3 linked regions of the Homo sapiens genome follow. The protein of the gene in region 2 interacts with the protein of the main gene of each other region in a pairwise test. Each region holds a gene or a part of one and is shown on either strand. Other genes may lie near its edges.

The links.
Region 1: the proteins of SHC3 (region 2) and CT55 interact in binary tests that used the Homo sapiens proteins (3 or more experiments, as listed by UniProt).
Region 3: the proteins of SHC3 (region 2) and BMF interact in binary tests that used the Homo sapiens proteins (3 or more experiments, as listed by UniProt).

What each region holds. Positions count from the first base shown.
Region 1 is NC_000023.11:135,157,786-135,161,537, forward strand, and holds part of CT55 (cancer/testis antigen 55), read right to left. Parts: intron 2,771-3,752; coding exon 2,626-2,770; intron 527-2,625; coding exon 414-526; intron 1-413. UniProt on the Homo sapiens protein: Plays a role in spermatogenesis, possibly acting in the regulation of the autophagy pathway.
Region 2 is NC_000009.12:89,046,071-89,049,822, reverse strand, and holds part of SHC3 (SHC-transforming protein 3), read left to right. Parts: intron 1-2,828; coding exon 2,829-2,979; intron 2,980-3,752. UniProt on the Homo sapiens protein: Signaling adapter that couples activated growth factor receptors to signaling pathway in neurons. Involved in the signal transduction pathways of neurotrophin-activated Trk receptors in cortical neurons.
Region 3 is NC_000015.10:40,106,957-40,110,708, reverse strand, and holds the start of BMF (bcl-2-modifying factor), read left to right. Parts: upstream 1-1,829; 5' UTR 1,830-1,936; exon of another isoform or gene 1,937-2,085; intron 2,086-2,322; 5' UTR 2,323-2,450; intron 2,451-3,742; exon of another isoform or gene 3,743-3,752. UniProt on the Homo sapiens protein: May play a role in apoptosis. Isoform 1 seems to be the main initiator.

The sequences.
Region 1 (3,752 bases), on a different chromosome or scaffold from region 2:
TGTTGCCTTGAATTGCCTGTGCATATTCAGGCTTTAATAACCAAATCATTCTTAGCATCTACTGGTCAGCTCAAGTCCCACAACACACTCCGTTCATTCTTTCCCTATAGTTTTCTGGCACAAAGATTGTTTTTCTTCCTCCTGTCCTTGGAAGATTCTAATAACATTTGGGTATCGAGTAAAATGCACAATTTAGAACTTAATCATGTGCTTGTTCTATATAATTTTCTAATTATTTCCTTTGGAAAATTCTGCCTTTTCAATAAGAAAAGTGGCTCCTTTGTTGGCAAAGAATGTATTTCTTCATATTTTCTGGAATTCCCATTATACCCAACAGAATCCTGGTCACGTAAATTATCACCAAAGGAAGAGTTAGCAGAAACTGCTGACGGGAGCAACAGGAAAGAAATTACCTCTTCCGTATGAATACAACGGATGGGCTTCACAGAAGTTGCCTTGATGTTTGAGATGCCTGGCTCAGTGGAATATTCAACTTCTAACAAGTCACCCTTATAAGGCACAAAATCTAAAACAGCCATGGAGAAATGTGAGTGTCATGATCTCTTAACTAGGTCACTTTTAATTTCACATGTTATTTGATAGTGTACTACTTTAAAGTCAGTTCTGCTAAATCTAAAGTCCATTTTGTGCATATTTAAACAGACACTACAAATCTCTAAGTCCAAAAAGAAGTTTATAATCCTTAGGCATTGATTCTCCTCTACTGATTTAACAAATTTAAATGGAGGAAAGTGTGAAGCATGCATCACAGCCAATATGAGGGAGCAGCACAGGATTTACTAAACAACTGTTAGTGTTCACAATTGCTTAGTGAGAGGCAGTCAAACATATAGGTAAGAGCACAAGTTTGAACCTGGCTATGTGGCTTCGAATCTTGACACTGCCACTCACTCAGTTGGCAACCTTAGCCAAGGTGGTTAATCTGTCTGTGCCTCGATTTCTTCATCTATAAAATGAGAAGCACAGTAAGTAGCCTTCATGGTACACAGCTGCCTTGAGAATTAGTTGATATGTGTGATACGCACAGAATCATCGCTGGCGCATAGCAACCACCAAATAACTGTTGATTGGTAGTAGTGGTAGCAGTACCGCTAGGAAATGTTGTTACTTTCAGAATGAATCAATTTCCCCTGGTGTTGTGTTCAACTAATGAACTCTTAAGTATGTGCCTTACAGGTTACAGTTAAGACCATCAAGTTTCAAACAGAAGTTTGCAATAAGTTAAAAGTGAGTCACAGGATAACAAAGTTACGTGAAAGAATCTGGAGCAAGTGGAAATCCCAACTGCAACTGAGACAGTAAATTGCCACAATGAAAACTAGTGATATCAACAAAGTTAAACATTTCTTCACCTTAGGACCCAACACTGTAGAATGACATAAGACACTGTGTTAGACCTGTTCTCTCTCTCTCTCTCTCTCTCTCTCTCTCTCTCTGATAATTTACATACATTTCTTTTGTGTGGATTTGACATATATCTATATGCTTATAACTCCAAAATGTATATGCCTCCAGTTCTAACCAACCTCAGGGTCAATTATCCATATGCTTACACCAATCTAACGTGTGTAAAGCTGAGTTGTTGGTATTCTCCATATTCACCAACTTTTGTTTGCCTCAGTCGTCTACATCACAAACTGGCAACTCCACTCTCACAACTGCTCAAATCAAAAACTTTGGAGGTACCTTAGACTCATTTTCCCTCCACAACAAAGATCTAATCCATTACCTCCTGGGTTCTTCTCTCACTTCAAAATATATCCAGAGTCAACTCAATCCTCAGGTTTTCCACTTCTCCATTTTCATTCACATCTCCATCATCTCTCACCAGGAATATTACAACGTTTTCCTGACTGATTTCCTGACTCCACCCTTCCCCTCATAGTCTCTTCTCAACAAAGCAGACAGAGTCAGCATCGTCAAACAAAATGCAGGTCAGAATCCTGCTTTTGCACCCAAGAAAACAAACTAGCAAGCTGCCTGGGGAAGCGGAGCTAATCTCTCCATTTATACCCAAGCTATACGACAGCTGCAGTAGACAAAACAGACAAAAAAATATCGTTGGGTAGAAGCTAAATATTAGAATATATCTGCCGATTACAAAGAGAATTCAACAACAACACACACACACACACACACACACACAAACAGACAACCACAAGGCGCTATCTCCAATCCTAAGTTTGAAGCATTTGAAGTGTATTCTTTTAAAATTTGGTAGTCTACCTTGTCACAGAAACTTCTCTAGTAACCAACTACAGAAATGATGCCTGCAAGTATAGTCTTTGAAGGGTATTAAAAATAGTGTCTCTATGCACTTGTAGGATTGTTTTCTTGATTAGAAATTAAATTCTCATATGAATGAATAGTATATCCAGGCATTACTGAGGGCATTGAACAAATGAACACACAATAACCAACAGCACACAATTTATAATACTGTCTATTTGCCCCTATACTGTACTTAATTTCGATTGGAACAGTCTACCTCTAACACTGAAGAGCCATTGACTGAAGCCAAGTACACTGTAAAAGTTGTTCCAGGACTAAAATCCTCTCAAAAAATTAAGAATTACATCATATATTTCAAAATATAAATCATACCTTCAGAAACAATGGCTATGGAAAAATAAATGCTGTTACTAATATAAATATTATCTTCATTTATAGAAGTAACACATCCAATTAAAACTCTGGTTCCTGAGTCTGAGGGTCCAGCACCATAAAGATGGCGAGGCACAACATCCACCTGTAAGATTTAGGAAAGAGTTTACTTCAAAAACAATACAAATTTAAACATGGAACTTACATGATTAAAAGACTTGTATTCAAAAATATTTTCAACAGCCATCCTAAACACTGGAGAATATAGTTCACTTGGTAAGTGGACCATTGACTTGAGATGACAGTAAAAGTCATGTGCGTGCTTCAAGAATTGTGAAATGTATCCCAAAACATTAATTGCATACCCAAGTTTAATGTCCTTGTACCATTAGATTCCAAGATTAAAATAATACCGTCCTTCGCCTGCAGAAATTCACAGTGAAATGACGGTAAAGTGGAAAGGTATATAGTCATAAGCAGGTTGCGATGAAGGATATAAAACTAGTTCAAAGATGGTTTCTGTGAATTATCTAGAGGGAGAACATTTCAGACAGGGAGAAAATAGAAGCATTGTTTAGGGGAAGTCAGATTTGTGCTGGGTTGGGAAAGAAGACGGGGTAAAGGAGCAGGGAGGCAGAGAGAAAAAACAACAGAAGTTAGGAGCCTAGGGAGCAAAACCCTAACATCCGAGATCCAGGCCTAGGAGACAGAAGCATGAGATAAAGTTGGAGCAATAACCTCAACTGGGGGAGGTTCGAAAAACCAAGTCAAATTAGGGCTTTACTTTATCTACAATAGAGAGGCATACAAACCTTTTCCCTTGTTGGAAGTGTAATAGTCCTTATTTTATAATCCTTAAAACTTACAAAAATAGTGTAAGCTTGTTATACTAAAAGTAGGAAAGAAAACAGATAAGCAGACAGCAAAAAGCAGTTACCCCACAATCCATAATTCATTACCAAGAGATCACCAGGGACTACATTTTTGGCAGTAACACTCATCCTGATGTTTTTGTCTGTGCACAAATATATATACATGTGTAAATGCCTGTTTTAAAAGCAAATTAGCATGGTATTCAGTGTTAAAGTATCACATTAAATGAACACAAAAGTTTTTAAATAACAAGA
Region 2 (3,752 bases):
TGGTTACAGCTCGGCGTTTGCCTTATTTGAACACAGTTGGAACAGTTGGCCGCATTTGATTGGCCAAAACTCGGTGATTGGCACAAGAGTAGGCTACAGTCTGTTTACACCTCCACTTGTATAGTTCAGGATTTACAGAGAAACCTTTAGGCCAAATTTAAATACGTAAGGAGGTAGCTTTAGGCTAAACTTGATTTAACATAATAGATCAAAAGGTTAACACTTATTTAATCTCCATGGGGGATGCATAAGTATATTTCATATTAATTATTATGCTAGCCTTTGTTTCTGAAATGTTGAATAAAAGCCAAATAAATGCTATTAAGATAATACACACAAAAATGAATGGAGGGAGTTAGTTTAACTACCATACTTCTCTGGCAGTGTACATAATGTATGAAGTTCTGTATGTGTTTGTATGTAGTGAAGTTTGAAGGACTTTTGGGGAAAGAAAATGTAGTAGACAGGATCTTATCCACTGAGAAAAATGTCGCCTCCAAATGCAAGTATTGGCATATCATTTCTGGTTTTGTTTTGTTTTGTTTTGTTTTGTTTTGTTTTTAAGAGGGAGTCTGGCTCTGTCACTCAGGCTGGAGTGCAGTGGCGCGATCTTGGCTCACTGCAAGCTCCACCTACCGGGTTCGCGCCATTCTCCTGCCTCAGCCTCCTGAGTAGCTGGGACTACAGGCGCCTGCCACCACGCCCGGCTAATTTTTTGTATTTTTAGTAGAGATGGGATTTCACCGTGTTAGCCAGGATGGTATCGATCTCCTGACCTCGTGATCCGCCCCTCTCGGCCTCCCAAAGTGCTGGGATTACAGGCGTAAATCACCGTGCCCGGCCGGCATATCATTTCTAAAGCAGAGCAGTGACAAGGGGCCCTGCCTGTAGCTTCATACTGTCGGTGACCTGACACCCCCCTCACCTTATCCTGCAGAGGCTCCTGGTGTCCCGCAGGGTACTATCCGAGAGCGGGGTGACGGGGATCTCCTGAGCTTGCCCTGCCTTCCGTTTCAGCTCCGCTCCTCCAGCAGGGTGCAGCCTGGGAACATGAGAGAACCCACACTGCATCCAGCTGTTCCAGCCCCATTCTCTGGGGACACTGAAAAACAAATCAGATGCCACTAAGACTCCATTTATTATTATTTTTAAAATTGATAATTCATATATAATCAAATTGCTCTTTTAAAGTTTACAGTTCAGTTGATTTGTTATATTCAAAAGTACAATTATCACCATTAATTCCAGAACGTTTTCATTACCCCCCAAAGAAACTCTATACTCATCAGCAATTACTCCCCATTCTCCACTCCCCACTCTTCCACCAACCACTAATCTACTTTCTGTCTCTATGGATTTGCCCATTCTGGACATTTCATATAAATGGAATCATACTGTATGTATCTGGCTTCTTTCACTTAGAAGAATGTTTTCAAGATTCACTCATGTTGTAGGATCTGTCAGTATTTCTTTCATTTTAGAGTTCTTAATAATATTTGAGTGTATAGGTATATGACCTTTTGTTCATCCAGTCATTAGTTTATGGACAGTTGGGTACTTCTACCTTTTTTTTTTTTTTTTAATGGAGTCTTACTCCATTGCCCAGGCTGGAATGCAGTGGCACGATCTCAGCTCACTGCAACATCCACCTCCCGGGTTCAAGCAATTCTCTCGTCTCAGCCTCCCGAGTAGCTGGAACTACAGGTGTGTGCCACCACGCCTGGCTAATTTTTGTATTTTTAGTAGAGACAGGGTTTCACCATATTGCTCAGGCTGGTCTTGAACTCCTGACCTCATGATCTGCCCGCCTTGGCCTCCCAAAATGCTGGGATTACAGGCATCAGCCACTGCGCCCGGCCCTACCTTTTAGCTCTTATGAACAATGCTACTGTAAAGATGTATACAAGTTTCCTTATGGACATATGTTTCAATATTCTTATGTATATACCTGGGAGTGAAATTCTGTGGTCATATGGTTATGCTGAAACTGCAAAGCTATTTTCTAAAGTGGCTGCACCATTTTACAGTCCCATGAGCAATGTGTGAGGGTTCTAATATCCCCACGTTCTTATCAACACTTTTTCTTGTCCATCTCTTTGATTATAGCTACCCTAGTGGGCATGAAGTGGTCTCTGGTTGTGGTTTTGATATGCATTTTCCTGATGACTAACGATGTTGAGGAACTTTTCATGCATGTATTGGCTTTTTGTGTATCTCTGGAGAAAAGTCTGCTCAAATCCTCAGCTCATTTTTAAGATCGGGTTGTCTTTTCATTGTTGAGTCGTACGAGTACTTTATATATTCTAGATACATGTCTCATTTAAGATACATGTTAGCAAATATTTTCTCCCATTTTGTAGTTTGTATTTTTACTTTCTTGATAATGTCCTTTGAAGCACAACAGTTTTTTCAAATAGCAGAAGGGAGAATTTTGAGAGGTTCATATTCTACCATTTTCCCTCATATCACTAAATTTCCATTTTGTAGTTGGTTTTGTTTGGGATCAATTTCATGGCTTACAAAAATGTGTGCTGTCCCTTGAGGAGCTGGCTATCCTTAGGCATAATTTCTTTTTTAATTAAAATGTACTTTTACAAAAGGACATCCTTCAAACATGATTGAAATGTTCCAATGAGTGAAACTCTGAATATGGCAGAGATATTTTGCTAAACCACTCATCTGCTTTTCATCTATGCATGAGACCTGGATGGCTGAGGAGGCACTGACTAAACTCTCTTTTCTTAATAACAGGCGCTAACATTAGATTTGTTGATTTTGGCTGCAAGTTCAACTTTTGGCTAAAGCCCTTGGAAATCTTCCTTTAACAGAATGCAGAGTCTGGATGAGCCATGGACGGAAGAGGAGGGAGATGGCTCAGACCACCCATACTACAACAGCATCCCAAGCAAGATGCCTCCTCCAGGGGGCTTTCTTGATACTAGACTGAAACCCAGACCCCATGCTCCTGACACAGCCCAGGTAAGTCTTATAGTTTTTTTCTTATATAAGGAATGGAGGCTAACTCTACTTTATTTCCTTTTGTTTTCTTTGGTTTTATTTCAGGCTGATGTTCTGTTTCATTTTTGACACAGTAAATCATGAGCTTTCTCTCACTGGATTTCATGAGGCATGCAGATGAAGAGAGGCTTTGGGTTAACATCATAAAGCATTGGCCAAATGCTTTGGAACTGTGTGGTGATTCCTGGGATATGAGTCTGGGGGTGTCCTCTGTACCCTCAGACATATTCCATCATACTGTGATCTCAGTGAGGGAAAGAGAGAATTTAAGATTTTAAAAAGGCTTGGGAGGCATTGGGTTCTCTGAAAAGGAGTGAATATAGACGCTTAAAATGATGAGAATTTTATGAGTTTTCTATTTTATTCATTCCCTTGTTTTATGTCCAACTCAAAATTCTAGTAAGGCAATTGCTTTCTAGAGTTATGATATTTCTGTTTTGTTATAGGAAATTTTTTAACGTTACTACCTTATGTGAATGATAATGACACCACTAAAAATGGCAAAATAACGTTGAGCTCAGGGATCTGACACTGAGAGGGAATTTCCTGATTTTTTGAAGGAAATTTCCTGGTTTACAGAGTGGACTTGACCAAGTGTGAACGATCATGGGCGTATGTGTTATGTGGGAAGTGTGTTCTGACACATAGATACTCTGTAATTGAAATTTATTTTAGGACATACATATGGAAGAGCTTGATTTACAGTCACACTTCGGGAGGGGTGGGGGGGGTAA
Region 3 (3,752 bases), on a different chromosome or scaffold from region 2:
TAGCAACCACAGCCCTCAATATGGCTGGTTCATTCTGTTTCAGGTGACTTCTGAGGGAGCAAAGGAAAGAATGATGGGAAAAAGGTACAAGGAGACTTCAGGCTCTATTGGGCTGAAGGTCCCAGCTCCACTGAACTTAAATCTAAGTTTACAACCCAGAGAGCAGCTCGGTGGTCAGAGCACTGCTGAGCCCTACTGCCCCTGGTGGGTCAGGGTTGTTGCAGGACTGGCTCCCTCTCACTGCTCTCTGGACTCATCATTTTATCTTTCCTAAAACTCAGGCTTGGTCAAGTCACTCATCTCCAATAAAATCTTTGCTGCCTCCCCTTTATAAAATACAGATTCTTCAGTCTGGCATTCCAGGGACACCTCTGTAGTCTGACCTGAACCCACCTGCCCATGCCTACCGTTCGTAAATCTCAGTGTGCACCCAATGATCCAGTCACCAAGCCTCCCTCTGCTCCCTGCACAGGTAAGCTCTCCAGCTCAGCACTTCAGTCTGCTACCCTTAGGCCTGGGCTATTCTTTTTTATTTTATTTTATTTTTATTTTTTTGAGACGGAGTCTCATTGTCGCCCAGGCTGGAGTGCGGTGGCGCTATCTCCGCCCACTGCAACCTTCACCTCCTAGGTTCAAGCAATTCTCCTACCTCAGCCTCCCAAGTAGCTGGGATTACAGGCATGCGCCACCACGCCCGCCTGATTTTTGTATTTTTAGTAGAGACAGGGTTTCCCGTGTTGGCCAGGCTGGTCTCCAACCACTGAGCTCAAGTGAACCACCCGCCTCGGCCTCCCAAAGTGTTGGGATTACAGGCGTGAGACATGTGCATCTGGTTTTCCTTATTGAAAAATATTTCCCATTCAATTTAAAAGCTGTCTCCCTGAGGCCTTCTCCAGCCTTTGTATTCTGAATTTTTCTGCATTCCTCAATAGTCATTATCCTTGGAATGAATACAATTCCAATAACTTTTCACTATTTTCAGGGCTACCTCTCCTAGTAGACTGTAAGCTCCTTGAGGGCAGACGCCAGGTTTCTGGCACTCAGCCCAATATCTGGCACAGAGTAGGTGCTCGGTAAATGCCTGTGAAGTAGCCCATAGACTCCCTTACGCGGTCTGCAGGACATGCTGCTCTCCTGGCAGCACCAGCACAGTCTCTAAATGCTGCCATATGCGAGATATGTGTCAACCGCTCAAGCAGCCCCGGCCTTCTTGAGCGCTCCGCTTCTCAGCCAGGTGCTTATTTTGCCAGTGCCCACGCCCAGTCAAGAAGAGGACCTAAGGGCTCCCCTGGATGTGTTTGTTTCAAACACACCTTCAGCTTTGGAGCTGCAGTTTTCTTCCGACCTGCTCGGCAGGCGGGAGGGAGCTTTCCCCTGAGGCTGGGATCCCATAGGGACCCGCACCCTGCACCCTGCACCCACTGGACGCACCAGCCTCATAAAAAAACTCCCCGCCTCCTTCCCCCCTCCCTTTGTGGACGCGCAGCAATTATTCTGCCCATTGCCGTGAAAAAGAAGACAAAAGTTACTTTGGCGCCCCCTCTCCCACACCTAATACAGAGGATTCAGGGACTCTCTGGCGCTTCCAGAGCCTGTGTTAGGGACAGAATCCGCACTGGCGACGGCGCTCCGACTGCGCTTCTGGCGACGGTCGGAATTTTGCTCGGCCCCTTGCAATGTTTCCATGGGAAGGTTCGTACATTCGTGACCGTCCCTGGCAGCGGCCCAGCCCGGGACTTGGCGCTTCACTCGCCATTGGTCAGTCCTCGGCGTGACGCGCAGGGGGGCGGGGCCTCATCAGCTGTTTGCGGGATGCCCCGAGCAGGCGTATTTTGGAAACAATACCGCACCGTGCGGAGTGGCCTCCTCCCGCCCCGGCCTGTGCCCGCCGCCGCCGCCGCCCCTGCCTGCGCCTCCCGCCTCCTGCCGCAGCCCGGTGAGCGCCCGGGTGGCCGCCGGGGGCCGGGCGGAGTTGGATCGCAGCTCCTTGGGGAAGTGGGGAGCGGAGTCGCGCTGCGCACGGGGGCCCGGGAAGGGTTTGGGCTGCGGACGTCTGGGGTGACCATGAAGAACTGGGGCGCTGGGGTGAGGGAACGGGGTGCAGAACCCACAGTTGGGTGCGCTGCTCCAAGAGGGAACTTGGGGGTAGCATTTGGGACTCGAAGGAGTTGGGTCCAGGTAGGCAGGGGAACCTGGGGTGCACTGCTGAGCAGACCTGGGCGCCCGAGAACGGCCCAGCCTCTGGGTCTGACTTTGGGATAGGACAGGAGCTGTGGGGCATCCTGCCTCTCTGCGGAGTCTGAAGGCTCCTCTCCTTAACAGCTGGGCTTTTTCCCTCCTTCCCAATCGAGTCTGGGCGTCCAGCCCCCGAGTGCTCGTCACGCTGGACCCTGGCGCGGAGCCCTGGCATCACGACTCGGAGGCCGAGACTCTCTCCTGGAGTCACCCAGGTCTGGGGTGTGTGTGTGTGTGTGTGTGTGTGTGTGTGTTCCTAGTCACTGTCGAGGATCTGGGTGTCTGACTACTGCCTTCTCCTAAGAGGAGGAGGAGTCTAAGTTCAGCATCCCTCTTCCAGCCCTTAGGGGTTGGGATGGCTGCAGCGGGGCTTGAGTTCCTTTGCTAGGAATAAAGCATTCCCTGGCCCTGTTCTCAGGAAGTGCCCTCCTCCTCCCACCGCTCTGGACATCACCTCTTAAGCTCAGGAGAAAAATTTCACCCTCTCTTAGTTTACCCTTGACCTTGGCCAGCACCCCTCCAGAGGCGCCCACCTACAGGCAAGCCACCTACAGTTTGTGGAGCGTGAGAGGGGTCCCTGGGGCTTGCAGAGCCACACCTTCTGGCTGCACCTCCCCCACTGTCCAGTCCAGGCAAAGGTTGAACTTTGGGGCTTTGCTGGGAGGGGGAGGGGAAGGTGATAGGCTTCAAAGGAAAAACCAAGACAATGACTCGTGCTGGTGATTGGCTTTGAGGGCCCCTTCTTAGGTCAAGATTGCTAGCCTGAGAAGAGGAGGTTGGAGAGCTGGAGGGGAGCCCCTGCCAGGTGACTGGCGGGACAGCACTTGGTCCTTTCATCAGGAAATTTTGTTTCCTGTTGTTAATAAGCTGGAGTGCACCACCTCACCCCCCTCCCCATACACACACACACACACACACACACACACACACACACACACACTTGGGAAACACGGTCCAAAGAACACCACGTGGCTGCTTGCCATCCTAGCAGGCATCTCCTCATTCTCCAGGGAAGAGGGCACAGACAGGACCATAGACAGCTCAGGGACAGGGATGGGATGGGACGAAGGCAGGGCCCAAGCAAGCAGCTCACAGCTTGTGTTTGGCAAAGGCAGCATTCTGAATTGAACTGAGATTCTTTTAGCTACTTCACCAATCCATAGACCATTTGGCTTGTTCTTCAAAGGCAAGAGACTAGGGGACAGAACCCCCAGGAATCTCTAATTGAGTCTGACAAGAATGAAATTCATCTCTTTTTATCCTTAGCTGTTCAGGTGGTTGCTGCTTCTGGCTGCTGCAGGGGCCCTAAGCAGTTCCTGGTATGTGTAGGGAGCTGGGTTGGAAGCTTAAGATGCTGAGTAGCTCCAAGCTCAGACTTTCAAGAGCCATCAGGTGGAGCAAGAGGAACTTCTTTATCACCAAGAAACTCATATCAATAACTTCAGCAGTATAGGCAGTGAGTGAGGTCACAGGGAGAGGGCTGAATTTCACTTCCTTCTGTAAGACCAGTTGTACCA